4 linked regions of the Homo sapiens genome follow. The protein of the gene in region 2 purifies or fractionates together with the protein of the main gene of each other region. This does not show direct contact. Each region holds a gene or a part of one and is shown on either strand. Other genes may lie near its edges.

Region 1 (7,021 bases), on a different chromosome or scaffold from region 2:
TTGTTTGGCCTTCCATTCAAGGATCTTTTGTGGTCTTTGTCTAGTTTTAGCCTGGTGATGGCCATGTGCTGGTGACGTGCACACGACGGTCCTGCCCTTAGCCTCCTCCTGTGCTCCTGTTCAGTATAGGTGGCACATTTCTTCCTATAAACCTGGACTGCTTTGCCAATTTGCTGGCCCGTATAGTGTCTTTGTGCAACCTCAACTTCCTCATCCTTTCAGATGGGCATGGATGGAACTGTGCTTGTAGCAGACTCCAGAATGTGCTTCTGTCTCAGCTCTTTGGAACGAGAGAAAGACATAATCTTCCTACGAATGTGGGAAGGTGCATTGAAATGACTTTTATGATTCTTGCCTCAGTCAAAAGTCACAAAGGGACTGCACTTCCTCTTGGTCACTGCCACTCTGCTCATGGCCACAAAAGGGAAGAGTGGATTACACATTTGTATACAAATCACCACACTGAGTGAAGTGGATGCTTTTGTGAATGTTTTCAGTTATTCACTTCATCAGCTCTAGTTTCATGACCATATAAAAATTGCATCTTAGCAGGTGTAAGGGGAAAGGAAACACCCCTTCTTTCTTCTCTTACTTTCTTTTGTTTTGTTTTGTTTTGTTTTTTTGCCAGCGGTTAAGGAGACCTGTAGTTTGAGTCAAGTGCTAGAATTCCAGTATTTAGCACCAAGAGGTAAAACAGACCTAGAAAGCTCAAAACTTGCAAATTGTAAAGAAAAAGACCTGCAGCAGTTTGTACCTACATTGTTTAAGCTGAGATTTGAAGGCTGAAATGTAGTGTTAGCCACGAGAAGCTGAGGTGAGAGATGCCCATTCCTGGTCAGGGAGCGAGACCCGTGAAGGCCTTAGGGTACAGGGGATGGAGGATGTCAGAACTGAGAGCATCCAGCGGGCAGGAGGGAGAGCCCAAGGTGAGGCGAAGCTTGACAACGCAGGCCCCACCTGGGCTCGCTGGCTAAAGTTAGGGATTCCGGGGTCTGCTCCAAGCACGGTGGAAAGCCCCTGAAGAGTTTTAGCAGGGGACTGGCTCAGGCAGCTCTGCATAATCAATAGGCCCTAGAACCTTACTTTTATAGTCAGCAGGCAATAGCGCTGCTCAAAGACTTCAGTAAACTTCTGCCTACGTAGCACATTGCACAAAGATGACACTCTGTAAATCTGAAATACCCAACGGCAAGTAATTATTACCCCTTGTTTGGCCATAAAAGAATTCTAGGACCCAAAACATATGAACAGGCAGTTTGGGGGTTTTATTTTTATTTTTGTTTTTGAGACAGGGTCTCACTTTGTCACCCAGGCTTGAGTGTAGTGGCATGATCATGGCTCACTGCAGCCTCAACCCCCCAGGCTCAAGCAATCCTCCTGCCTCAGCCTGCTGAGTAGCTGGGACCACAGGCACATGCCACCATACCTGGCTAATTTTTTAAAATTTTTTGTAGAGACAGGGGCTCTCACTATGTTGCCCAGGCTGGTCTTGAACTCTTGGCCTCAAGTGATCCTCCTACTCAGCCTCCCACAGTGCTGGGATTACAGGCATGAGCCACTGCGTTTGGCCATGAATGGGCAGTTTTTTAACTTCCTTTTACTTCTGAAGTAAAGCGTTGCTCTAGGAAGTACCACTCTCACCTGTTCTAGTAGGGATAAGGCTACCTGGTTTTTTATTCCTATTGTTATATGGTACCAAGAAATGGTGTTATATTTTAGCCTCAGTTTGCCCTCTTGAAATGGAGACTAAAGTGTTCCCAGGACTCCTGTTACCTCACTAGAGCATTAGGTATCAAGGACACTGGGTTCCAGGTCAAGTCAGAGAGGCTTCAGCCAGCATCCTGCCTGGAACAGTGTTTCAACCTAAGATCTGCCCTTGGGCCTCACCCAGTTTCTTCTGGCCCTTCTAGGGATGCCAAGGCCGCTGTGGTGACTGGCATGGAGCTGAAGGACATGAGCTCAGAACAGCTGGATGAGATCTTAGCCAACTACCAGGAGATTGTCTTTGCCCGGACATCCCCCCAGCAGAAGCTGATCATTGTGGAGGGCTGTCAGAGGCAGGTGGGTGGACAGCAGTGTCCAGAGGACTGACAGGCCCATCACTGTCCATGGGCAAGTGCAGAGGTCTGGATCTCACATCAGGCTGTGGTGCCTTTGAAACTTCAAGAGAGAGTTCTTGGCTCATCCCCATCACCTGACCTCTCCAACCTCTCAGGTGGGCTGGCCCCTGTCCTCCTTTGAGACCCCCACCACATGTTCCCCGAAAGGCTCACCCCAGCTCTCTGCATTTTGTCATGAGAGCCCGGTGAAGCATTTGCCACTGTGGTAGTTGTGAGTAAAGAGAGATTTAAAATGCAAAGATTTAAAACAAAAAATGTGAAGACATAAGATACAAGACACCTGCGCATTAGGTTTTCCTCATTTGCACGTATCTTGTTTGGAGACCCTTGTTCCTGCTTCTAAGATTTCTCATCTTTATCTTTTCCCCTAAATGGGCCTTTCCGTTCAGCTATAATCATCCTCGCAACCTCAAGAGAAAGGGAAGTCTTGTTGCTCTTGCCAGGCCTGCAACCCACTGGGCCTGCTCACTCCCACTTTCTCCCTGGGTCCCCCGCCATAGGATGCTGTTGTTGCTGTGACCGGGGATGGAGTTAATGACTCTCCGGCTCTAAAGAAGGCAGACATTGGGATTGCCATGGGGATAGCAGGTTCTGATGCAGCCAAAAATGCAGCCGACATGGTCTTGCTGGACGACAACTTCGCATCCATCGTCACAGGGGTGGAGGAAGGTGAGTGAGTCTCAGGGGGTCTTCCCAAGGGCCAGGGTGGTCTGGGGGACTAGAAGTAAGTTCTGAAGGAGAAACCTCTCTGCCTAGGTCGCCTGATCTTTGACAACCTCAAGAAGACTATTGCTTATTCCCTGACCAAGAACATTGCCGAGCTGTGCCCCTTTCTGATCTACATCATTGTCGGGCTCCCCCTGCCCATTGGCACCATCACCATTCTGTTCATTGACTTGGGGACAGACATTGTAAGTGACACTGAAGGGAACAGGCTGTGATGCCTGCCCCAGGGGAGGTCAAGTTCAGGGTCGCTACCTTCAAGGGCCGGGGATGGACTAACTCAAGGCTTCTCAGCTTCCATGTGATGGGGCCTGTAGCTCTGCATTTCTCACAGGTTCTCAGGTGGTGCCCATTCTACCAGTCCACATGCCACACCTCAAAGCAAGGGACCAGAGGCATCTGCCAAATGTTTGGAAATTAAAAACACTCTATAGTGAGCTTTTTTTTCTTGAGACAGAGTTTCACTCCCATCACCTAGGCTAGAGTGCAGTGGTGCTATCTTGCCTCACTGCAACCTCCGCCTCCCAGGCTCAAGTGATTCTTCCACCTCAGCCTCCCAAGTAGTTGGGACTACAGGCTTGTGCCACCACACCTGGCTAATTTTTGTATTTTTAGTAGAGATGGGGTTTCCTGGCCTCAAGTGATCCACCTGCCTCGGCCTCCCAAAGTGCTGGGATTACAGGCATGAGTCACTGCACCTGAGCTATAGCAAGCTTTTCAAGACATGAGTCTTCATCCTCAAAAAAAAAAAAGAAATGCCATTGGTCAGTTTCAGCCTATGGGCTTCCCTTTTCTTTTGGGAAGATGAAGCTGTCACTCAGATTAATCACCCAAATAACCACTGGGGGCCCAGTGACTAAAGTGATAATCTCACAGCCACCTCTTGTTAAGTAAGAGAGTCTGACATGGAAGACCTTTACCTAAACACAGTAAGAAGTAGCAGTTATGAAGACTTTATAAAGCCTTGCCCTACAGTAATGTCACCTAAACCTTCCCCTTTTCCAGTATCCATTTAAAGAAAGCCCCGTCTAAGCTGCCCATGTGGCTGTGGCTTACGTGGGCAAGCAGGGAAAGCAACAGACAGCAAGCTGAATTCTTAGCAGGAAACTGGCCCTTCGAAGTGCCCCCTTCCCCTTCAAATTGCCCCCTTCCCCTCTCTTGTTTTCTACAACACCCAGGTAATCCCTAATTCCTAGAGAGACTGGAGATGTCTTTCCCTTTGAGGGGTATTGAGGTCCCCAAAGTTGATGGATCATTTTCCAAGCCCTTCACATTTGCCTGCTTTGCTCTGCTGCAGTGCTTCTCCAGGCCTGGTGCGGGCATCACCTGGGAACTTGTTAGACATGCACACTCTGGGCACTGGTGGACACCTGTAGCCTAGCTACTCAGGAGGCCAATGCAGGAGGATTACTTCAGCTCAGGAGTTTGAGTCCAGCCTGGTCAACACAGAGAGACCTAGTCTCTTAAAAAATAAAAATTAAGAACAAATAAAATAAAAATCTTATTCCAGATAACTGGGCTAGGAATGGAAATAGGTTGTACACCCATTGTCTTTTAAAAAAGAGAAAGAAAGAAAGAGAAAGAGAGAAAGAAAGAGAGAAAGAGAGAGAGGGAAAGAGAGAAAGAGAAAGAGAGAGAAAGAGAAAGAAAGAAAGGAAAGAAAGAAAGAAAGAAAGAAAGAAAGAAAGAAAGAAAGAAAGAAAGAAAGAAAGAAAGAAGGAAAGAGAAAGAGAAATGAATGCAAATTCTCTGGCCCCAGCCCAGTCCTCCTGAATTGGGAAGTCTGGAGGTGGGGCGCAATGATCTGTCTCTTAGCAGGTCCTCCCACCTGGAGGGAGAGGACGGCACAAGAAATTCTCCCTGTAGGGGAAGAGTGTTTTATAACCAGCATCCTTCAGAACTGCCAGCACAGGGTGATAAAAAGCAGCTGATTTCTAAAGGCACTATTCTTAAATTTCCATACAGACAACACGCCCTCTACTGCCTATAGCCTGGATGGGCCAGCTCCATGCCCCCCACCCCATCCAGCCAGTGCCCCACCCACCCCAGCCCCCCTCCCCTACTGTGGGTAGAGCAGAACATCCTGGGGTTAGACCTCACCAGCCTCTTCCCCTCTAGATCCCCTCCATTGCCTTGGCGTACGAGAAAGCTGAAAGTGACATCATGAACAGGAAGCCTCGCCACAAGAATAAGGACAGGCTGGTGAACCAGCCGCTCGCTGTGTACTCATACCTGCACATTGGTACGATGAGGGCGCGTCTTCCCCATCACACGAGGGCCTGCCCCGAGAATTCACTGGAGTGGGGGGCACAGCCAGAAAGTGTGGTTTTCCTGTGGGGCCTGGGTTGGGGAGGGAGGGGGAACCGAGAGTAGACAGGATGAGGCAGTTTCCTGAGGCCATCATAGAACCTGTGTCCTATCTCTCTTGTTCTTTCAGGCCTCATGCAAGCCCTGGGAGCTTTCCTTGTGTATTTCACCGTCTATGCACAAGAGGGCTTTCTGCCCCGCACTCTCATTAACCTGCGGGTAGAATGGGAGAAGGACTACGTGAATGACTTGAAAGACAGCTATGGGCAGGAATGGGTGAGTGGCGGGAGCCCTGCTGCAGAGTCCACCTGATTCTCTCCATGCTCATTGCCCTGCGCAGAATTACATAGAACCTCCATGTCCCTGAACAGCCTGGGAAAGCTTCAATTAATAGGGCTCAGGGCCCCCTTGCTGACACGTGTTTGGCCTTTGCCAGGTCTCATGGCACAGCCTCCTGTCTTGGGCTAGATGACAAGAGGTCCCTTTTTTTACCTTAGCTTTGCCATTGGTATAGAAGAGTGACCAGCCCAGCCACACCCACAGTGCGGCCAAATAAATTTACATCTTTCAGGCCGGGTGCAGTGGCTAATGCCTATAATCCCAGCACTTTGGGAGGCTGAGGAGGGAGAATCACTTGAGCCCAGGAGTTTGAGACCAGCCTGGCCAACACAGTGAGACCCTGCCTGTGTTAGAAATAATAGTAATGATAATTTTTTAAAAAATTAACATTTTTCTCTACTCAGCTGGTTCAAGAAAGAAAAATGTTTCTTTCCAAACACTAGAAGGTGGTCCATTCTCAGTCCGGGTGAGGTGTGGAAAGAACATGAAGCTTTAGAGAACTGCATTGGAATTTCCTAGAAGTTTTCCTTTAGGCCTCAAGGTCTCTTCCTTCTCTGCCCATTAACAGACAAGGTACCAGAGGGAATACCTAGAATGGACGGGCTACACGGCTTTCTTTGTTGGCATCCTAGTCCAGCAAATAGCAGATCTGATCATCAGGAAAACCCGGAGGAATTCCATCTTCCAGCAGGGTCTCTTCAGGTACTGCCTGTGCCCGGCCTCCTGGGGCAGCCCTGGGCCTGCCGTGCAAGGATGATGATGATTTGTTTTTCACAAGACAGAGTTCTGGCCACACTTGTAACCCCAGAGGCATTGATTTTTCTGGTGGCATGGTCTGCTGGGTGTATGATCATGAAGCCACAAGAATCCCAAGTCTGTCTGCTTTTGTGTGTCTTGCAGAAATAAAGTCATCTGGGTGGGGATCACCTCACAGATCATCATTGGTCTGATCCTCTCCTATGGCCTCGGAAGTGTCACAGCCTTGAGTTTCACCATGCTTAGGTGAGTTCACCCTCAACAGCATGGAGGAAAGAGCCAGCCTCTGCTTTGAGCTGTCGCAGCCTAAATAAACCTGAGGATTCCCAGGGTTCTTCCCCAAGTCTTTCAAAAGACGTCAAACTGATCCCATGCTCTGTGAGCCCAAAGCTTTGATCTGCATTTTCCAGAAGTGGAAATGGGTTTTCTAGACCTCACCAACCGGCCTTCATCCTCATCCAACAGGTTGCTTCAAAGGCAGACATTGCTTCTAGCAGTCACAGTGCAGGTTAAACAAGGAGCTTTCCACCTTTATTTTGTGGGACCTCGTGGATTTGTCGTTCTTTGCAGTAAAGCAAGACAAATGAACGAGAAGCCCCATTCCCATTGGGCAGGGTTGGGCTATCCCTGTGGATGAGTCAGGGTTCACTTTCCATCCCTTTGCTTCCAGGGCTCAGTACTGGTTTGTGGCTGTGCCGCACGCCATCCTGATCTGGGTGTATGATGAGGTGCGGAAGCTCTTCATCAGGCTCTACCCTGGAAGTGAGTAGCCTATG
Region 2 (7,783 bases):
TCATATGGACAGAGCCCAGACTTCAAGGGAGGGTATAGTGAGAGATGGGGCTAAGAGGTAAGCCATGGTCAGAGCATTGCCTGCCAAGTTAAGGAGTGTGGAAGTAAAAATTATTCATCATCTACTTTATTTGGTTAAAATGAAAATAAACTATTGATCCTATTAATATTTGACAAGAAGCCTTGGGAGTTAAAATCCTGTTGAAGTAAGTAAGTTGCTTGAAAACTTGGAGTACTCCTATGTTAGTTATTTTCCTTGTTAATAAAATAAAGAAGAGAAGATTAGAAAATATGTTACAGGACCAACAGGTTTGTATGCCCACTGCACAGCAACATACCAATACACTGAGACAGTAGGGTTTGCAGCAGAGAAAGAGTTTAATGATTGCAGGGCGGCTGAGCAAGGAGATGAGAGGAGATCTTCAAGTCCATCTCCCTGAGGAGTTCTGGGCTGGGGTTTTTAAGGGGATTGTGGAGAATGAGGGACTGGAAAATTGGGGTCATTGAGTGGTTGGGGTCAAAGGGATGAAGTCGTCAGGATGTGGAAACTGCATTCAGTGAGTCAGCTCCTTGTATGATCCTTCAGAACTGCTGATGTCGATGGGGTCCTTCAGATCAGCTGACCTCATTAGTTTCACTGGTGTGCAGGACCTGAAAGGATATCTCAAATGGAAACAACATTTTATAATGTTCAAGTTGTTATCTATAATAGAGCAGTTAAGGGGAACTATACTGTCTGATCTATGTGATTCTAGGACAATATGCCTAAACAACGATGAGAAAGCAGGTCAGAGAGCCGGCTGACCTAATGATTAATGCTGAATGTGTTGCAAGCTTGGTTTGTTTTCATTTCTTTCTCTCCCTGCTTTCCTGATTAATTTTCAAAGGTTCATAAGGACAGTTTCAAATATGTTCTATTGACACAGGAGCATAATAAACAAAAGGAGAATGGGGCCAAAGTCACATCTCAGTTTAAATATGATAAGCTCTGTCTCTTGTTATCATAAACTACTGAAAAGTAGCAGAGAGTTCCATCATATTTGTTTAAATGCCAGAGTTTTGGATTGATCTCACAGGAATGTTCCCTCTAACAGAGCACGTGATGATCACAAAGCCAATAAAACGTGTTCTGGGACGTTGCAATTGCTCTTTAATCTATTTGGTGCGTTTGGTATAGGAAACTGAGTATTTAAAACCTAAACTGTAAATTAACCTACCAGACTTTAGATAAGCAATCTGCCAATATAAATATTGTGTAGGTTCTCTTGTTAGCCATAAGGCTATACATGTTTTGGCTCTAGCTTTCTCCTTGCAGACTGCTTGAAATAAAGGATTGGCAGATTCACATTAAAGCACAACATTAAGCCTTGTTCCTTCATAGGAATTTGGATTTGTGTGAAGACAATGGGAAGCCATGGAAGGGTTTTTTTTTTTTTTTTCAGAGTGTCACTCTGTCACCCAGGCTGGAGTGCAGTGACGCCATCTCAGCTCAAGCGATGACCCTTGGGTTCAAGCGATTCTCATGCATCAGCCTCCCTAGTAGCTGGAATTACAGTTATGTGCCACCATTCCCAGCTAATTTTTTTGTATTGGTAGTAGAGGTGGGGTTTTGCCATGTTGGCCAGGCTGGTCTCGAACTCCTGACCTCAACTGATTCACCTGCCTTGGCCTCCCAAAGTGCTGGGATTACAGATGTGAGCTACCATTCCTGGCTCATTGAAGGGTTTTAAGCAGAGTAGAAACATAATCAGAGTTGTGTTTTGTTTGTTTGTTTGTTTATTTATGAGACAGGGTCTCTGTCATCCAAGCTGGAGTGCAGTGGCATGATCATGGCTCACTGCAGCTTCAACCTTCCCAGGCTCAGGTGATCCTCCCACCTCGGCCTCCCGAGTAGCTGGGATTATGGGCATGTGCCACCACACCCGGCTAATTTTTGTATTTTGTGTAGAGACGGGGTTTTGCAATATTGGCCAAGCTGGTCTCGAACTCCTAGGCTCAAGTGATCTTCCCACCTCGGCCTTCCAAAGTGCTGGGATTACAGGTGTGAGCCACCGCCCCCGGCCTCAGAGTTGTGTTTTATAAATAAACTCTGGAGCCCTGTAGAGGGCAAATAGGAGGGTAGAGAGAAACCAGAGGTGGAGCAATCCTAGCAGACTGTTGCCGGAAACCAGGTGAGAAATACTGATGGCCTGAGCTAAGGCAGTAAAGTGGAGATGGAAGGGATGGGATGGACATAATGACTTTAAGGAGGTAGAATTAATATTGATTGGACATGGGGGATGAGGAAGGGGTCTAGGATGATTCCCAGGTTTCAGACTTGGGCAACTGGATGGAAGGGAGTTGCCTGGCATCTATTAAGCACTTATTAAATTTGTTGAATACATATGCAGATAGGAAATAACATGAAAATGAGGAGGACCAGATTGCAGTGAATCATCATCATTTTAGTTTTGAATGTGTTGAGTTTGAGGTACTGTTGTGATTCTCCCTAAGTACGATTTTACTACGGGGTCGTACTGTGACTCGTCACATTTAATATAAGACAAAAAATGAGCAAAAGATTTGAATAGGCATTTCACCAGAGAAGACAAACAAATAGCCAATAAGCACATGAAAGGATGCTCAACATCATTAATCATTAGGGAAATGCAAATCAAAACCACAGTGAGATATCAATCCATACCAACTAGGATGGCTAAAATAAAAAAGATAATATGGCCAGGCACGGTGGCTCATGCCTGTAATCCCAGCACTTTGGGAGGCCGAGGTGAGTGGATCACTTGAGGTCAGGAGTTTGAGACCAGCCTGGTCAACATGGCGAAAACTCGTCTCTACTAAAAATACAAAAATTAGCTGGGTGTGGTGGCATGCACCTGTAATCCCAGCTACTCAGGAGGCTGAGGCAGGAGAATCACTTGAACCCAGGAGGAAGAGGTTGCAGTAAGGTGAGATTGCACCACTGTCCTCCAGCCTGGGTGACAGAGTGAGACTCCCTCTCAAAAAAAAAAAAAAAAAAAAAAAGATAATAAGTGTTGGTGAGCATGTGGAGAATTTGGAACCCTCATATGAAGCTGGTGAGATTGTAAAATGGTGCAGCCTCTTTGGAAAACAGTTTGGGAATTCCTCAAAATGTTAAAAATAGAGTTATCATTTGACCCAGCAATTTCACTCTTAGGGTACATATATCCAAGAGAATTGAAGGCCCATGTCCACACAAAAAATCTGTATGTAAATATTCGTTTCAGCATTATTCATAATAACACAAAAAAGCAGAAACAACCCAAATGTTTATCAGTTGATGGATGCATAAACAAAACGTGGAATAGCCACACAATGGAATATGATTCAGACATTAAAATGAAGTACTGATAAATAGATGAACCTTGAAAACATTATGCTAAACAGAAGAAGCCAGTCACAAAGGTCACATATTGTGTGATTCCATTTATATGAAGTGTCCAGAATAGGCAAATCCACAAACATGGAAAGTAGATTACTGGTTGCCAGGAGTGGGGTGTGGGAGGAAAGAATGGGAGGTGACTGCTAAGGAGTATGGGGTTCTTTTGGGATAATAAAAGTATTCTGAAACTAGATAGTGATGATTGTTGCACAACCTTGTGAATATACTAAAACCCATTGAATCGTACACTTCAAAAGAGTGAATGGTATGATATGTGAATTATGCCTCAATAAAGCTGTTACTTAAAAAAAAAATATATATATATATATATACACACACACACACACACACACACACACACACACACAACCCTAGGTCCAGGGCTCAAGCTATGAAACAGCTGCAGTTCTTTCAGAAAGGTGACTGAGCCAGCCCCAGCTTGCAGCAGCTGATCTCAGGTTGGCAGTCTTAAGAAGTGGGCTTTGCTAAAATCAACCTGCCCTCTGACCCCATTCCAGCAGGGGATTTGCATTGTAATATTCCAGTTTAAATTAGAGGATGGGACCAGGCACGGTGGTACACGCCTGTAATCCTAGAACTTTAGGAAGCTGAGGCAGGCAGATCGTTTGAGCCCAGGAGTTCGAGACCAGTGTGGGCAAGCTGGTGAAACCCCATCTCTACAAAAAACAAACAAACAAACAAACAAACAAAAAAACTCAAAATTAGTTGGGCATGGTGGCGTGCACCTTTAGTCCCAGCTACTCTGGAGGCTGAGGTGGGAGGATCACTTGAGCCTGGGAGGTCGAGGCTGCAGTGAGCCCAGATTGTGCTACTGCACTCCAGCCTGAGTGACAGAGGGAAACCCTGTCTCAGTAATTAAATAGAGGGCTGGGTGCGTCAGCTCATGTGTAATCCCAGCACTTTGGGAAGTCAAGGCAGGTGGATCACTTGAGGCCAGGAGCTCGAGACCAGCCTGGCCAACTTGGTAAAACCCCATCTCTACTAAAAATACAAAAATTTTTACAGGCGCCTGTAACCCCAGCTACTCCAGAGGCTGAGGCAGGAGAATTGCTTGAACCCGGGAGGTGGAGGTTGCAGTGAGCCGAGATCATGCCACTGCACTCCAGCCTGGGTGACAGAGCGAGACTCTGTCTCAAAAAAAAAAAAAAAAAATTAGAGGATGGGGGCTGAGGAGCATACAAGACTCTCTGGTCAGGGCAGCTCTTTTCTTTCTTTCTGTTTTTCATTTTGGTAGTAACAGATCTGATTCTGCAGCTGATCAAGGATGACACTGGTGAGAACCCTATGAGGGAGTGAAGCAGCCTGGACTCTTACCACAAGAGGGAGGTGTTATAAGAGCAATGCAGAGGTTGGAGTGGGCAGCAGTTGGGGCAGGAGGAAGCCGACTGCTGCCTGGTCTGCAAAGAAGTCCTTTCAAGTCTCTAGGACTGGACTCTTCCTAAGCAAGTCCGGTATGTAGGTGGGTAAGGGTGGTTGTGTGTGTGTGTGTGTGTGTGTGTGTGTGTGTGTGTGTGTGTGTAGGGGATATGGGATATGGTCTGTTTGGAGACAGGTTTTGATTATGATTTTTTATCATCTTAAAAGATCCTTCAACTTTGATTCGTGAAAGAAATTTTGTCACGATTGCTTGCTCTGCTTTTTTGATCTTTACTCCCATGAAGTTTGGGAGAGTACTGGTTACAAGTTGGGAGTGATTTCATACTTACAAATAGGGACTCTGGGTATCCTCTGAAAACGGGATTCTCGGCAGTGGGGGAAACAAGCTCTTTAATGGTTAATGCTGATAGCTGTTGGGTAAGTTTGTGAAACTTTGGGTAAGCGGAAAGGGGCCTTCTGTGATTGGGCCAAGATCCCAGAACTCTGAGAGGTTGAGGAGTGAGGATCCCTTGAACTCAGGAGTTTGGGACCAGCCTGGGCAACATGATGAAACCCTGTCTCTACAAAAAATACAAAAAATTAGCTAGGTGTGGTGGTGCACACCTGTGGTCCCAGCCACTTGGGAGGCTGAGGTGGGAGGATCACCTGAGCCCAGGAGGTCGAGGCTACAGTGAGCTGTGATTGCACCACTGCACTCCAGCCTACATGACAGAGTGAGACCGTGTCTCAAAAAAAAAAAAAAAAAAAAAAGAAGAAAGAAAAAAAGAAAAAAAAAAGAAAATCAAAAAGAAAAGAAAAAACAATTATTGACTTGAGGAATACTTAGCCTGTATGCCCAAGTGGGAAGAAAAGAATGTCATGGTGGATCAGTTCAGGGAGCCATGTGCTGTTTACAGACTTGCTCTTAGGATCAGTGACTAAGCTGACTGGAGTTTATAGACAAACCCATGTCTGAAGATTTTAACCAAAGAAGGGAATAAAGGCTACTTCTTACTTTGCCATGTATTATATTGCAGAGAGAGAGGTCCTCGCTTGAGACAGAAGGAAGTTAAGGTGCACGAGCATGGCCCAAAATAGTGATAAAGAGCTGATAGAAATGATTAAGGATGTTGCAATATGTGGAGTTATGCATACTGTAGAAAAGTGGTGGTGTAATGCACCAGATAATGCACATTCCCATGGCACAGTTTCCTTCTATGAAAGCTCAGGGGAAGAGACAGGGCTCAGGGAGAAAGGCAATATGGCAATAATAAGACAACAACTACCCAAAATAATACTAATATCTAACAATTATGTATTGCTTTACATGCATTAACTTATTTAACCCTCTCAATAAATCACTGAGGTTTCTTTTTCCCATTTTGAACACGAGCACACAGGAACAGAGGCCAGTTCACTTACTCAAGGCTGCAGAACAAGTAAATCTCGAAGCCTGATTTTGAACCCAGGCCATCTGGCCTCAGAGTCTATGCTCATGATTCTATTTTTTATTTTTTTCTTTTGAGAGAGAGTCTCACTCTGTCTTCCAGGCTGGAGTGCAGTGGCATGATCTCAGCTCATTGCGGCCTCTGCCTCCCAGGTTCAAGCTATTCTCCTGCCTCAGCCTCCTGAGTAGCTGGGATTCCAGGCGCCCGCCATCACACCTGACTAATTTTTGTATTTTTAGTAGAGACGAGGTTTCGCTATGTTGGCCAGGCTGGTCTTGAACTCCTGGCCTCAAGTGATCTGCCTGCCTCGCATCCCAAAGTTCTGGGATTAAAAGCATGAGCCACCATGCCTGGCCTCATGATTCTATTTAAGAAAATTTTTTTTTAGGCTGGGTGCGGTGGCTCACGCCTGTAATCCCAGCACTTTGGGAGGCTGAGGCAGGCGGATCACGAGGTCAGGAGTTTGAGACCAGCCTGGGCAATATGGTAAAACCTTGTCTTTACTAAAAAATACAAAAATTAGCCGGGCATGGTGTTGCATGCCTGTAGTCCCAGCTACTCAGGAGGCTAAGGCCGGAGGATCGCTGGAACCTGGGAGGCAGAGGTTGCAGTGAGCTGAGATCACGCCACTGCACTCCAGCCTGGCGACAGAGCAAGATTCCGTCTCAAAACAAACAACAACAAAAACAAAAACACACACACAAAAAACCAATCCTTTTTTTTCTTATTATCTATTTATTAATTTTTCCAAACAGGGTGTTGCTCTGTTGCCCAGGATAGAGTGCGGTAGTGCAATCATGGCTCACTGCAACCTCGACCTCCCAGGCTAAAGTGATTCCCACCCCCTCCCCCCACCGTGTCAGCCTCCAGAGTAGCTGGGACTACAGGCACTCCCCACCATGCCTGCCTAGTTTTTGTATTTTTTGTAGAGATGGGATTTTGCCATGTTGCTCAGGCTGGTCTCGAACTCCTCAAGGAATTCGCCTACCTCAGCCTTCTAAAGTATTGGGATTACAAGTGTGAGCCACTGTGCCCAGCCTCATGATTCTATACTATCCACAAAATCAGGGTTGGGGCAGGAAAGCTCATGCAGAGAGGTTCTTGGAAAGAAAGAAAAGGAAAGGTGTCAGGCCTCTGAGCCCAAGCTAAGCCATCACATCCCCTGTGACCTGCATGTATACATCCAGATGGCCTGAAGCAACTGAAGATCCACAAAAGAAGTGAAAATAGCCTCAACTGATGACATTCCACCACTGTGATTTGTTCCTGCCCCACATTAACTGAGTGATTAACTTCGTGAAATTCCTTCTCCTGGCTCAGAAGCTCCCCCACTGAGCACCTTATGACCCCCACCCCTGCCTGCAAGAGAAAAACCCCCTTTAAATGTAATTTTCCGCTACCCACCCAAATCCTATAAAATGACCCCACCCCATCTCCCTTTGCTGACTCTCTTTTCGGACTCAGCCCGCCTGCACCCAGGTGAAATAAACAGCCTTGTTGCTCACACAAAGCCTGTTTGGTGATCTCTTCACTGGGACGCGTGTGACAAAAGGTAGTCG
Region 3 (7,020 bases), on a different chromosome or scaffold from region 2:
GTGCATGGATGTGAGTGTGAGCGTGTGTGTGTTTCTGTGTGTGTGTGTCTCCGTGCATGGATGTGAGTGTGAGCATGTGTGTGTGTGCATGGATGTGTGAGCGTGTGTGTGTTTCTGTGTGTGTGTGTCTCTGTGCATGGATGTGAGTGTGAGCATGTGTGTGTCTCTGTGCATGGATGTGAGTGTGAGCGTGTGTGTGTGTTTCTGTGTGTGTGTGTCTGTGCATGGATGAGAGTGTGAGCGTGTGTGTGTGTTTCTGTGTGTGTGTGTCTCCGTGCATGGATGTGAGTGTGAGCATGTGTGTGTGTGGCGGGGGGGGATAACCCAGGATAACCCACATCTCAAGATTCTTCACTTGATGGCATCTGCAAAGACCCTATTTCCAAATAAGGCTGCATTCCGGTTCCGGGGGTTGGGACATGGACACATCGGTGGGGACATTTTTAGCCTGCCCCTGGGCTGCAAGTGGACACGGGCTTTGCCCCTGAGGCCTTGGGGAAGGGGCTGGGACCTCAGCCAGGGAGACAGTGGGCATGAGAAGACGGGATGGGGGCCCCAGGCCCAGCCAAAGGGGTCCTCACTTCAGAGCTGGCCAAGGAGCTGCTGTCCCAACAGTGGCAGGAGGGAACCTGGGCAAGGAGGGGGCATGGCCCAGAGGCCTGGGAGAGGACGGACCTGGTGACTGGGTAGGGGCCAAGGAGCCAGGAGAGAAAGCAGTTGTGGGAGGGGAGCGGGACTGAAGGGGCTGGAGGCAGGTGGAGAGAGAGAGGGGTGAGAGTGGGGATGAGGCGGCCAGGTGGGGCGGTGGGCAGCCGCTGAGAGCAGGGTGCTCTCTGTGGCTTTTGTTTCCCAGGCAGTCGTCGGCAATGTGGGAGAGTGGGGTGGGGACGGAGGCCTGGCGTGCCCTAAGGAGGCAGGTCCAGGGCATGGTGGGACAGGCTGGCTTGGGACCTGGGAGGGAGCTGGGAAGCAGAGTGGTCTGGGCCTCCCTGGGTTTGGCTCCCTAAGTACTCCCAGTGCAGAGGACAGGACTTGGTGTATGGGAGAACTTTCTAGCAAAGCTCCCACCTCTTTACTGATGGAGGACCCAAGAGGGGCTGGCCGGTGAGCAAGGATCACCAGTGACACTGGCAGCATTTGCCTGGCACTCAGGTGTCCTCATTCCCAGGCCTGGGCCCTCCCTCTCAGCCTCAGGGCTCTGGGCTGGGAACCAACAGACACAAACCAAGGAGAAAGGACCATCCCCTTACCTGGCCATTAGCTGTTTAGGGGCCACAATTTGCTGAGGACTAGGGACTTCCATGACACTTTGTTCCTTGGCCATCTGACCTTGGCCTCAGTGGGACTCATCACAAAGGTAGGCACCATGGCCAACTCTTGGCTGGATTAGCCATGAGCAGTGCCCTGGGGGCCCGGGGGAGGAGGCAAAGTGGTGGGGCAGGTAGCCCCTGCCTCAGATTTTCTCCCCTGAACTTGCTTCTTCCCCCTGGCCAGACAGGGCCTGTGCAGAGTCTGGGGTCAGAGAATAGGGAGGGGAGATGCATAAACACGCAACCCAGGCAGCAGCTGCTCCAAGCTCAGGGAGATTCCCCCATGTGGATAGCAGCCATCAGTTAAATGAACAGCCTCCATCCCTCAGCATGTTCCCTGGTCCCCGAGGGAAGACAGTGACGCAGCCCAAAGGGACTCTTCTCTTTGCTTGTCAGCTCTCACAGCCACTCCTAAGCCTTTAAGTGTGGGTCTCCCCAGCCCCACACCTGCCCTCCCAGAGCTGCCCACACATGTCTGCTAAGAGGTGCTTGTCTTCAGCCGGGACCCAACCCTTGCCCAAGGGATGCTCCTGCTGGGGGCCACGAAAGGAGGCCAGCTCAGCAGCCTGCTTCTGCCTTTGCTCACTCCAGAGCAGGGCCCTTGGGCCTGGGATGGAAGGACATGACCCCAGGGAGCCTGCCACAGTGTGGGAGGCCAAGAAGGAACGTGGCCTGAATGCGCTGGGGAAAGGAGCTCCTCTGCCCTCCTGTGGTGCCTGAGGGCATGGGGGCAGCTGGCCTCCCGGCCAGGGGCCAAAGTCCAGCTTACAACCTGCTCCGGGTGGGATCCAGTGCCCTCTGGGCCTCCACTTCCCCATCTGGAATGTGGGCTAGTAAGAGGAACGACTCCAAGATGGCAGGGCTCTGGCGAAATGGCCAGAACTTAGCTCATGATAAGTTTCCAGCATCATTGGGGCTTGCTTCAGTCTTGATTTTTCCCATTCGGGGCCATGGGAAGTCACAGGCTGTGTGTGTGTGAGAAGGGGGTGTCCCCATGGCGGCTCTGGGCCCGGAGGAGCACACGCCCCAGGCTCAGGAAAAGCTGCCTCAGAGTTGGAGTGGAAGGGGACTGCGGGAGTGTGCAAATGAATATGTGTGAGAGTGTGAGTGGGGAGTGTGTGTGTGAGTGTGACTGTGAGTAACTGTGTGTGAGTGTGTGTGTATGTATGTGCCCATGTGTGTGCTCACTGGGTAAGTGTGTGAGTTGTGTAGGTGTGAGAGCATGTAAATATGTGTGAACCATTGTGTAACTGTGTGGGCCACCGAGCTTGTGTGGGTGAGGGTGAGTGAGCACATATGACTGTGAGGATGTGTCTGCGTGAGATTGTGAGTGTGTGCATGAGTGTGTGAGTGTGTGTTTGTGTAAGTAGGTGAGTGAGCATGAGTTCATGCATATGAGCAGGTGTGAGTATGTGTGCGTGCATGTGAGTGGGTGTGAGTAAGCATGTGTGAGCGCACACATGACCAGGTGTATGAGTGTGTGTGTGCGTGCGTGCGCGAACCTCAGCTTTCCACGGCACCAGCTGCTTCCTGTGGAAGGGAGGGGCAGTCTGTGGGGGTTGTGACGGTTCCCTGGTCTCAGGGGCAGCAGAAGCTTTCTGTCCTTTTGGTCCCTAGCACAGTGGTGCCTCCTCAAAGAGGCCTTCCCTGAGCCGCCAGCAGCCTCTTTCATGGCTCCCCATCAATGGGGTTCCATAGCTCCGACCCCAGCGGCGTGAGCACATTTGCCATCCGACGGCCACTCCCTGCTTTGTGGTCCCTGCTGTGTCCCCAGTATTCAGCTCTGGTCTGGCACACAGCATGTCCAGGGCCCTCTTTGTCCAAGGCAAGAAAGAATTTGAGGCTGCGTCCAGGCCTCTTGCACCTGCCTCAGGCTCCCGCCCAGAGCCTCTACCTGTGCCCCAGCGAGCATTCTCTGCTCGCTGCTCAGAATGCTCGCAAAGGCCGGCCCTGGGGTCAGAGGCCTCCACAGCCCCTGGAGCTGGGAAGCCTGGGGGTCCACCGGCAGGCACGGGGGTCTCTTTCCAGGTAGGTGGGAACGCGTGCTTGTGGGTGTGGACAGGTGTCTGCACTGGGGTTTGTCTGTGTGTCTGTCTCCACTCACACCGGGGATGTATGTGCCCCTGCGTGTCTGTCTCTGGTGCCCACCTGTGTGCAGTCTCTGTGTTCTGCCTAACGGTGGTGTTCCCGTGATAACCGACGGTGAGGATCTCCGGTAAGCGCCGCTTCCTCTGGGAAGACGCATTTGGACGCCCGTACTCTCAACAGGTAATGGAGTTTGCAGGAGACCACCAATGCCTTGGAGTCCACTGAGGCAAGACCCAAGGACCCCACGCTACACATCAGCCACCCGGCTCTGTGCCCCATTTTACTGTTGGGGAGACGCACCTAGAGGGCAGGGTCTGGAGAGGTAGTGGCAGCCTCAGTCGCAAGCTCAGGGTGCTCTCTCTGCACTCACAGGTGCCATGGTCCCCCAGTTTCCATCCCCACCCACCCCCACTCGGCCAGTGCCCTTTGGGGGCAATGCCAGGCCAGGAAGGGCGGGCACCCTCGCGCGTCCTGGGGACAGAAGGGCGCGCACCGGGCGCGTAGCTCCTGAGCCCCGAGGCCCCTGCGCCGCGCACCGCCCCCCGCGCCCGCTCCCTCCTCCCTCCCTCCTCCTCACCCAGCTCCCTCCCCTCCCCCCTCCCTCCCTCCGCGCTCAGAGCTGCGGTTGGAGCCGAGCGCGCCGCGTCGCCCGCCGCCGGTGCAGAGCGTGGGGAGCACTCGGCCGCAGCCCTCGCCCGCCGCAGAGGGTCGCGTCCCGCGCCGCCGGCCAGGCCGCCCCGTGCCCAGGCCTTTCCATCCTTGGAGCGGATCGTTGCCCGCCTGACGCCCGCCCGCAGCGACAGCGCCCGCCGGAGCCGAGGCCGCGGCGGCGGCCGTGCCCATGCCCGGGTAAGTGGTGCTCTGGGCGCGCGGGCGCCGCCGGGGTGGGCGCGGGCGCGGCGCGGGCACAAGGCGCGGGTGGGGATGGGAGGATGACCCGGCAGGTGGTGCGGCGGCAGGTAGGGGGACACGGGTCCCCGCCCGAGGCACCTGAGCCCCGCGCCGGGCCTGCGTGTCCTTGCGGCACTGCGGCCGCGCGTCACCCCGGGGCCCCAGGCCGGCGGGCAGCGCCCCGCACCCTGCACCCTGCGCCCCGCATCGCGCGCGCACGCGCATCCGTGTCTGAGGAACAAGGCCCTTGGGGGCTGCGGGCCGGGGCTCAGGGTGGGCGCAGCCGGGGGCGCGGGATCTGGGCCGGGAGCCCGCCAGTGCGCACGCACCTTCCCGGAGCCTCGGGCACCCCCTCCCCCCCGCGCCCTCACACTGTATCATCCTTCCCCTCTCGCCTTCCCGCACCGTTCCCCGCACGCCCACGCGGCTGCCCAGCAGACCCCACCGCGGTCATGGGCAGTGCCCACGAGAAGCCGCCCGGGGCCGCACTTAGGTAACTTCTCCATCCCTCCAGGAACGGCTGTCTCCCCCTCCTCGCCTGTGTGACCTTGGCCAGCCAGCTTTTCCTGTGGCCGCCTGCGTTTTCTCACGGGTGAAAGCTCTGGCTTTAAGATTCTGGAATTTGGAATGGCAGGTGCGGCATCTCCCAGAGCCTGAGACGATGGGCTTCTCTCTCTGTGACCTGGTGTCCTTCCTTCTGCTGGCCCTTCTGGGGGTTGGTGGCTCAGCCAGCCGGCTGAGGAGGGGTGGGAGGCAGGGCAGGGGCATGGCGCCGGGGCAGGTCAGGACTGGAGGGAGTCTTGGAGAGCCCGCGGTGAGGGCTCCATGAGGGTTTAGGAGAGACTGTGGAAATGCTCCTTCGCTCACTCAAGGGGCAGGGAAGGGACCAGAATTCCTCAACGAGATGCTTGCCATTTCCTGGCGAGGTCATATAACTTTCAAAGATGAAGCCCAGGGCCTCCGACCTCAAAGGAGTCCCTGCCTGCTAAAGGATCAAGTCCAGCCTGTCCCCAACTGGCCCCCATCCTGAATTCCACTGGCACCCTAAACGTCAGCCGACTTCCCCTGGCTGACTTGGGCACCAGTCTGGCAGGCACCCCCTGCACCTCCTCCCCTCCTTTGCCCACTAGGATCTGTGCCCTCACCCCCTGCCATTGCCCCTCACTAGTCAGTGACCATCTTAAGGCAAGGACTGGCTCTTCATTTGCACAGGCCTGGCACAGAGTGGGCACCTGGTTTCTGCATGGCATATTCATGACCTTGACCTCACTGAATCTGCAGACTCACTGAACAGGAGAGGCAAGGCCTGGATTTTTGTCCCCATTTTTCAGATGGGATCATTGAGGCCCCCAAGAGGAGAAGGGATTCAGCCCTGAATTGAGGCCCCTTCCTTCATGAGCAGATGGCTAGGGACATTCCTATGAACCTGGTGGGGCAGGGAGGCGGGGAGAGGTTATCGTAATAATCAAAGACCAGCCCCACTTCCTGAGCTCCATCTGAGTCTCACCTCAACCACACGAGTGAATGGCTGTTTTCATCCCCAACCCCCACCCCCCGCCGCCACTTTTCACAGATGAGGAAACCGAAGCCATGTGGCTCATTAAAGGGGCACTGGGATGCCGAGGAGAGGGCTGGGGATGCCTGGGCCCCTGTGGGACACAGCTGAGACCCAGCAGAGGGTCCCAGGGTGAGGTCAGCCCCTCAAGTCTGCGCCATCGGAACGGGCTGGGAACTTGTGGTCCCCGGCCATTGATTGTCACTGCTGCAGGCCCCGAGGCGGGGGACAGCCAAGGACACAGCCAGTCTCCATCAGCTCCACCTGGGCCGTGCCCTGCACGGCCAGGTGGTTTGAGTGCAGGAGTAGGCATGCTCTCACACAGCAGGGGGTAACGGGCAGATGGAAGTGGGGCGGGCGTGGGAGGGGGCCTTGCACAGGGCCAGAAGGAGAGCCGGTCCCTGAGGAAGGAAGCCCCTAAGGCAAAGAGCATGCCAGGGGACAGCCACAATGCCAGGTGATGGAGATGCCCCAATCGGCCCCCGAGGGGCAAGGAAGGGGCCAGAGGAGGCTCGTGAGGGTGCCTGGGGCTTCAGTGACAGCAGCCCCTTACCTGATGGTCTTTGTGACCTTGGCCAAGTCCCTTCTCCATTCCAGATCCAGGGAGGGTGGGGGTGGGCCTGGGGGAGCTGGAGCTTCAGAGGTTGAATCATTCACTAGCAGGAGAAGCCAAGCCTGTGAGTCAGTGAGTGCTCTCCATCCCAGAACGTCTGCTCCCAGCCCAGGGATGCAGCCACGGAGTGCCGGGGTCAGCCGTGGAGGACCCTCTGAGAATGTCTTGTGGAAAGGGGCGCCTTGCCTGCCCGGTAGACAGGATGAGGGCGCCCCAGAGCCCCAGGGGCTTCTGAGAGCTGAGTACCCTCTGGGCCTCTTGCAGCCAGCAGAGCCAGGCAGAGCTTCTTCTGGCCTTTTCACCTCCTCCCCCACCTCACAGAGCAAGTCATCAGCACATATGAACTCCCCTCTGATTTTAAACTGATGGCTTGTGTATTTCACCAATGGCCACTGTCTCCATCAGTGGTCAGTAGCACATCAAGTAATGTCAACAATGATAATAGTTATAATGGCAGTCACTTTATGTCAGACACTGAGTGCTGCACAGACATTTCCTTGCCCACTTAATTGAAACAACAACAAATGATTGCAAGTGCTGTTATCCCCATTTTGCATTGCGGC
Region 4 (7,012 bases), about 33 Mb from region 2:
GTGGGTTTCAGCTAAGTAATCTTTCTCTTGACACTTCTCTCTGGTGATTCAGGTTAATAGAAATTTGAGAACATATACAGCTATTTTAAATTAAGAATTTAATATCCTCCTTCTCTGCCTCCCTGTACTTATCAGTCCTCTTTAGGATTCTGTAATGATCAGGACTGATGCATTCACATATGTAAAATGTGTTTACGGGGAAAGAATATGTTTTTTAAAATACACTGCAGTTGATATGTCTTTATTTTGTCCTATTGCTAGATGCATGTGACAGAATAAAGTTCTTTGTTTCTCTTTACACTTAATTACATTGAGGATTTTAGAAAACTGTCTTCATGTGTTATATCTCTTGAATCGATCAACTTTTCAGCAAATATCTCAGTTGTTTAGATTTACTCTATGAAAAAGAGCATACCTTAAAAATACCAAATATATTATTTTGAATCTGCAGCCACTCTTCAATGTTAACATCTCATATGGTAACTTGTCATGGGGTTTAAATACTTTTTTGTTTTGTTTTGTTTCGTTTTGTTTTTGAGACTGAGACTCACTCTGTCGCCAGGCTGGAGTGCAGTGGTGCGATCTCGGCTCCCTGCAACCTTGGACTCCCTGGTTCAAGCGATTCTCCTGCCTCAGCCTCCTGAGTAGCTGGGATTACAGGCATGAGCCACCACGCCCAGCTAATTTTTGTATTTTTAGTAGAGACGGGGTTTCACCATGTTGGCCAGGATGGTCTCAATCTCCGGACCTCGTGATCTGCCCGCCTCAGTCTCCCGAAGTGCTGGGATTACAGACGTGAGCCACCGCACCTGACTGGATTTAAATACTTTTATAAGTTTTGCATTGTAGCTAAAATGCATATTAAAAGAACTTTAAAATATTATTTCCCCAGTAAATTGTATTATTATATTGTTCCTTATGCAAAGATACATCTCTAGATCAGTTAAACACATGGGATAAGTTAGGTCTAAGATTAAGAGAATACTGTTACATACAGTGGCATCTTTGATTTCAGATAGTTCAATTTTTTTTCAAGGAAACAGTAAGCAATGCAATATTTTCTTGATTTTTACATTGAAAAATATGTGTGAGGGATGCTTTAGTACTAAGCCTGTGGGAGAAAAAAATTGAATTTCTTAATGTAATGTGAACAGTTATTTCTATATTGCTTTCACCCTTTATTTCCTATTTGAAGAATAAAAATATAAAAACCAAACTACAGTACAATTTTCTTGACTATGACAGTAAAAGTTTGTCATTGCATATGACTCACATTTCATTAAAATGCATACAAATATGTTCCGGGATACACACACACACACGTTTTCATTTATGGATATACATGAATATATATATTCCGTATGTTTCATTTATAGATTTATCGATATAAATGAAAACTTAATTGAATCGTGTTCTTAAATAAAGATGCTCAATAATTGTTTCATGACCACAACACTTTAAGAGCATTCATTTTATAATCTGGAACTGGAACAAACCCACAAAGTGAACAGATTCTAGTTTATTACCCATTTTGCTAGTGTACTATAGCAATGATTCACATATTACTTTAATGTCAAATTCTTGATTAAAGTAGAATACATAATTCAACATTGTATTGTAACTTCCTTGGAGGAAAAGTTGGAAAAAAGCCAGTGATTCTTAAATGTCTCTGAGTCGTTTTGAAAGATATTTTAGGGGGAAATAATATTGAAATTTATTAGGTGAAATTTAGGTTATTCTTCTGTTAAAAAGATTTGAAATAGTGTCAGGAAGGGCTATTTATTGTACCACATTAACCAATTCTCCATCAGTGACTGAAGAGAGGAAAAATGCTATCATTCTGTTCAATGTTCGTTTATCTTACACATCAAGGGCACAGCTCAGAAGGCTGGTAATGTCAAGCCTAGTGAGATACATAAACTGATAAAAAAATTATTTGCAACAGCATTGATTTATATTTATTCACTTTTAAACGTCTTTTACACATTTTGTGTCTAATCTTTTAAAATATTTTAAAACAAATGCTATCATCAGATCGTGAACATAATACCATACTTCCTATTGCCTGTATGCTTTTGAGGAGGCTATATAAATATTAATTTTCCAGTTCTGGAATTAAGAGAAAGAAGATTGCAGAACTTATCTTTTTGTTCTGATTAACTGATACTGAAAATAACACTGACAAGGTCTCTGGGCCAGTGGCGACGGTGAGTTCAAATAAAGATTAGATGAAGATGAAGCGCGGTATCTTAGGTAAGATACACATCTTTACTGTGTATATGCGTGTACAAGAAGGAAAACTTGCTTTTTTTTTTTTAAGTAGATGTTACGAAGGATGGTTTTTTTTTTTTTTTCAACTTGCAAAATCTCTTGAAGGTTGGAGCAGAGCCGCCGGTTACCTTTGAGCATCGAAATACCGCAAGTTATCCCGTTTCCTTTTCCCCTCAGGAAAGATGGGTGCAGGGTTGAGATGTTACAAGAGAATTAAAAGAGAGCCACCAGCTTGGCATAGTAGAAGAAACAAACCCAAAATGAAAACACCCGGATTTTAAGCGCGGATCCTGCGAGGCCGGTTTGCACTGGCCGAACGCCTGCGTTAACCCTTTGGGCGCCGCAGCTGGGATCCCCGGTGTTTGCGGACCCGACCGGCAGGAACAGAGATGGAGTGTCCCGCGCCCGCATGGGGAGTGAGCTCTCTTCCCCAAAGAGGGAGCGAGCCGAGAAGCACTTTTTCCTCCGGTGCGTGCGTCACGGCCCGGGACAGGCGTCGAGTCCGGTTTGGAGTGGGGGCAGAGACGCGGCGAGGAGCCGCTCAAATGTCCGCTGACTGGGGGTTCGCCTTAATCTGTCCTCGCCAGGAGCGCTCGCCCTCGCCCTCCCGCTGGCTCGCTCCTGGGCCCTGGAGGGGCATGGGCCCGGGGGCGGTTCGGGAGGGGCCCCAGGTGAAGGGCGCCCGCACTTCTCCTGCGGCAATCATCGCTCTCCTGCCTCCACACGTCGCGGCAGCGGCCCGGCCCCGCGCCGAAACAGCAGCTGTGACTGACGGAGTCACCTCCCCGCGCGCCTGGCCACCCCCTCCTCCCCCGCCGCTCCCTCCTGCACCAACACGTCATGGAAACACGGACGTCAGAGCCTCTCAGCCAATCGCAGGCTGCGGCAGGAGGGAAGGGGCGCGCTGGAGGGGGCGGGGGCAGCGGCAAGCCAAGGCGCTCAGGGGAAGGAAGAAAGGGAGGGGCGTGCGGAGGCGCAAGTCCCCACCTCCGCCCCTCACTCCGGCCACCCTTTCCCGACCGCGCGGCAAGTTCTAATCGCCAGGCGCGCGCTCGCCAGCCGAGGGCGCGCTCGCCGGGTCCTCCCCTTAAACGCCCTCCCAGTGCCGCTCAGCTCCCAGTCCCGGTCCGAGCCGCGGTTCCTCCGCGCGCGCGCGCGCGCACTCGCCCGCCCCCAGGCTCCCCGCGGATCGCGTCACGTGACCGCGCTCAGCCAAGGCGGCAGCGGCGGCGGCGCGAGCTTCGGCGGCGGTGGCGGCTGTGGCAGCGGGAGCAGCTGCGCCGCCAGCGTGGAGCGGGAGGCGTGTGGGTGTGGAGAAAAGGGAGCGCCAGACCGGAACGGGTGAGCGTTCTCCTCCCCCTGCCTACCCCGGCAATCTTGCAGGCCACCCGGTGCAGACGGGGTCCCTGCCCGGAGCTGCGCGCAGCCCCCTCGTGCTCGGCCGTCCGCTCTCCGGTGCCCGCGGGCCCCGCCCCGAGTGGGGCGGGCTGCGGCGCTCACGGAGGTGGCTGCACCCCGCCCGCGGCTGCTGTTGCGGACGGCGGCGTGAGGCCGGCTGAGCTGCCCGTGCCGAGCGAGCGCGGCGCGCCCTGTGTGCCGCTCTGCGGAGCCGAGGAGGCGGGTCCTGCGGGGACGCGGGCGGCCACTCGGTGGCTGCCGGGCTCTGGGCGGGGACGGCCGGGCGCCGCCTCCTCCTCCTTCGCTGCCGCCGCCGCCTCCTCGCAGTGCAGCGTGAGTAGGGAGCCCCGGCTGGTGGACGCCGAGCCTCTCGGCTCCTTGGCCGCCCCATCCCCGAGGTGCAGCTGCACCTCCGCGTGGCGCCCCGAGCCCTGCGAGCCGGCTGCGGACGCGCTGAGGACGGAGCCCCCATCCTCTGCGTTTCCCGCTGCCCCTTAACGCCCCGCGACCCTCCCGCAGCCTGCCTTTCCTTCCCCCTCGGAAAATGGTTCCCACTGCCGGGCGAGGTGAGTGGCGGCCGCCGCCCGCCCGCGGCCGGGGGCGGCGGGGCAGGTCACCTGCGGGGGAGGCCAGGCGGAGCACGGAGGTCGGGCGTCGCGGCGGGGATCCTGATAGCTGGGTGCGCAGCGGGTTGCGCCGGATTCGGGAGAAGCTGACGGGGGCGGTCGGGGCCCCTCGCAGGTTGCCTCTTGCCGGGAGATTGTGAAGGTGAGCGGGCTTCTCGCCGTGCACCTCAGCGCCGGGTCAGTCTGGGAGTCGCTGCTCCGGGCCCGAGGGATGGGGCTTGTTGGGGCTTCTGGTCTACACCCGCAGGTCTTCGGCTTCACGAAGCCGCCTCGGCCGCGCCACAGCCCATCCCGCCACCGGTCGCCCCCGCCACGGCGCGTGGTGACCTTGAGGGCACCGTGCCCGGCACTCCCTCTCCCCGCGCCCCGGGAGGGTCACCCCTCTAATCCTTGGCCTCGGCCCCCCAGACGCACTGCGGGAGGGGAGCGGGGGCCCCTGGTCGGCCCCTGGCCCTGGTGGTTGATTGTTGGCGTGTCAGGACGGTGATTCCTCGGGAGTTGGAGAGCCGCCTGGTCTTTCTCCTCACGCCTTCCGTCTGGCCCCCCAGGATGTTCACAGTTGTTTCCGATTCGTGTTTATTCACTTAGTTTAAGAGAAAAAAGCCTGCGCCCCCACCTCCCTTTTTGAGGAAGGAGTCTGTAGGAGGACCGCGTTCCAGTGGCAGGGGTGTGGGGTGGGGGCTGTGCTCTCTTTATCCCATCCTGCGGGAGAATCCTGTGGCTAAGCTGGTTAGCGACCCCTGGTTCTGCGCCGCGGTCACCAGCCAGGTTGGTCTCTGTGCGCATTTCATTCACCAGTTTTCTGCGGGACTCGCAGCGCTGGGAGTGCTCGCACCCTGTGCGCTGCTTGGCTCGGAGGGGAGGGCAGGGCGTCCGGGTGGGTTAAAGGGGTCTGCAGGTACTTGGAGGGCTCGACCCTCCTCGACAGGCTGATATTTACCTTTTCTTTGGGTTAGAGCGCTGCAGACAGCCACCTTTCGCTTCTGTGCCCGCTACTTTTCTTGGTTTATTAATAATCTAATGGCTTCTGTTGGTATCGATTGCTGTTCGTGATAAATTAGCTACATAGATTTTTTTCATACGTGTGTAGGTATATGCATATATCTGAACTTGTCTGCCTGTCAACATGGAAGCCTTTGTTGTGTTTAACCTCCCCCACCTGAGGACAGTCTTATTTTAAAATAAGGCTTTTGTTCAGCGTGGGTGTATTTTATAATAAGAAGTACTTGTAAGGGCCTGGTTTGTATGAGGCTCTCATCTGGCAGAGGGTGTGTAACCCTTTGGATGGTGGCCCACGTGAGTGAATGGAGGGCCTTCACCACTTGCCCCGATGCCAGCCTTCCCGAGACTCCCTGTCCTTGTGTGTGGCAGGGGTGGATTGGGGGAATTAAGAGGGATTGGAGGAGAATCTGCTTTTTGTACTTGTGCGTTTCATTTGGGTCCTCCTCCTCCCCTCTCTTTTTCTTTATCCTCCTGGTGAGTTCAAATTTGAAGTAAATAGAAACATTTTTTTTTTAATTGGGAACCTTTGATAGCTAGTATATGAAATGGGCTTATTTAGCTATGATTTCAGGAGGACGTTTTAGTTTTTACCTTGCTTTAGATAAGACAGCTAAATTGCTGTAATTAAGGGTGGATCTCTGTCCTGATTTTGGCTTGGGTGTAACTGCAAAGATCTTTGAAAAGTAACTGTTAATTTCCTACCATATAGTCTGCAAAAGTGAGTCACATTCGGGTGAGTTGAGGACAGAGCGCCACCTTTAATTTAAAATTTCGTGATTTTCTTTTATTAAAATGGTGAAAATTCGGGGTACGCCTTCTTGATTTTTATCGCAGCTGTCATTATTGGCATCCCCATTTTGACGTGTAAGGGGGAATTGTCTTCATTTTTCTGTATTCTCTCATTTCTCTTTTGAGAGAAATTTCTGCAATTGTATGGGAAATCTTTTTTTTATTGAAGCTTGGGATTTTAGCATTCTGAGATGAGATGAGAAACTAGTTTTGATTTGTGTTTATAATAATATTGATGGTCTGGATATTCTTGGTAAAAGAAGGAAAGTAATAGCTGCTTTTAATAGGTGGTTTGAACTAGCCATTGCCACCAAATAAAGGTACCTACCAGTATGACAGTGGCTTTACAATTTTTTTTTTTTTTTTAGCTGTAGGCCTATTAACAGATTCTAAAATAAACACGCAGGATCAGATATAGTAATTCTTTTTTGTTGTCTTCCAACAACTTACCTTTTGTGATTTTACTGTTTTACAGTTGCTTGTTCTTAAATAATATAGATGAACACTTCGAGCAGGTGTACTTATATTCAAAGTTTAATAAAGACCATGTTAGAAAAAGTGGTTTGTATACATGGCTCCTCTCAGGTGCATCTCATGTAAAAATAAATGGAGATTTTAATACTTAGAAAAGAGTTACTGTAGTGACAGTTGAGATTTCTTTCCCTTCCCTTCCTTCCCAAATCATAAGTATAAGGAACACTGTCTCTTTAGGCACAGCCTCCTTTTTTGATGTAACATGAGAAAAGGGATTTAGCTCCCAAGTAATGAATTAAGATGTGGATATTATTACATATAGTCTTACTTACAAACCGCAAAATATTACTGCCCTTCTATCTGCATTTAAGGTTTCATTCAACACTTGCAATTTCTCTATAGACAATGTAAAGCATTGGCTATTGAGCTGTAGATAAGTCTTTATTAAACTA

Evidence for each region.
Region 1: the proteins of HSD17B6 (region 2) and ATP12A purify together in Homo sapiens (affinity purification with mass spectrometry; 3 studies listed by BioGRID and IntAct, with this or other methods). This does not show direct contact.
Region 3: the proteins of HSD17B6 (region 2) and ATP2B3 purify together in Homo sapiens (affinity purification with mass spectrometry; 3 studies listed by BioGRID and IntAct, with this or other methods). This does not show direct contact.
Region 4: the proteins of HSD17B6 (region 2) and ATP2B1 purify together in Homo sapiens (affinity purification with mass spectrometry; 3 studies listed by BioGRID and IntAct, with this or other methods). This does not show direct contact.

What each region holds. Positions count from the first base shown.
Region 1 is NC_000013.11:24,704,403-24,711,423, forward strand, and holds part of ATP12A (potassium-transporting ATPase alpha chain 2), read left to right. Parts: intron 1-1,910; coding exon 1,911-2,061; intron 2,062-2,620; coding exon 2,621-2,789; intron 2,790-2,876; coding exon 2,877-3,031; intron 3,032-4,961; coding exon 4,962-5,085; intron 5,086-5,280; coding exon 5,281-5,426; intron 5,427-6,057; coding exon 6,058-6,191; intron 6,192-6,389; coding exon 6,390-6,491; intron 6,492-6,915; coding exon 6,916-7,007; intron 7,008-7,021. UniProt on the Homo sapiens protein: The catalytic subunit of a H(+)/K(+) ATPase and/or Na(+)/K(+) ATPase pump which transports K(+) ions in exchange for Na(+) and/or H(+) ions across the apical membrane of epithelial cells.
Region 2 is NC_000012.12:56,758,544-56,766,326, forward strand, and holds the start of HSD17B6 (17-beta-hydroxysteroid dehydrogenase type 6 precursor), read left to right. Parts: upstream 1-4,780; 5' UTR 4,781-4,871; exon of another isoform or gene 4,872-4,879; intron 4,880-7,783. UniProt on the Homo sapiens protein: NAD-dependent oxidoreductase with broad substrate specificity that shows both oxidative and reductive activity (in vitro). Has 17-beta-hydroxysteroid dehydrogenase activity towards various steroids (in vitro).
Region 3 is NC_000023.11:153,513,629-153,520,648, forward strand, and holds the start of ATP2B3 (plasma membrane calcium-transporting ATPase 3), read left to right. Parts: upstream 1-4,013; 5' UTR 4,014-4,247; intron 4,248-4,803; 5' UTR 4,804-4,923; intron 4,924-7,020. UniProt on the Homo sapiens protein: ATP-driven Ca(2+) ion pump involved in the maintenance of basal intracellular Ca(2+) levels at the presynaptic terminals. Uses ATP as an energy source to transport cytosolic Ca(2+) ions across the plasma membrane to the extracellular compartment.
Region 4 is NC_000012.12:89,705,819-89,712,830, reverse strand, and holds the start of ATP2B1 (plasma membrane calcium-transporting ATPase 1), read left to right. Parts: upstream 1-3,992; 5' UTR 3,993-4,235; exon of another isoform or gene 4,236-4,437; intron 4,438-4,683; exon of another isoform or gene 4,684-5,063; intron 5,064-7,012. UniProt on the Homo sapiens protein: Catalyzes the hydrolysis of ATP coupled with the transport of calcium from the cytoplasm to the extracellular space thereby maintaining intracellular calcium homeostasis.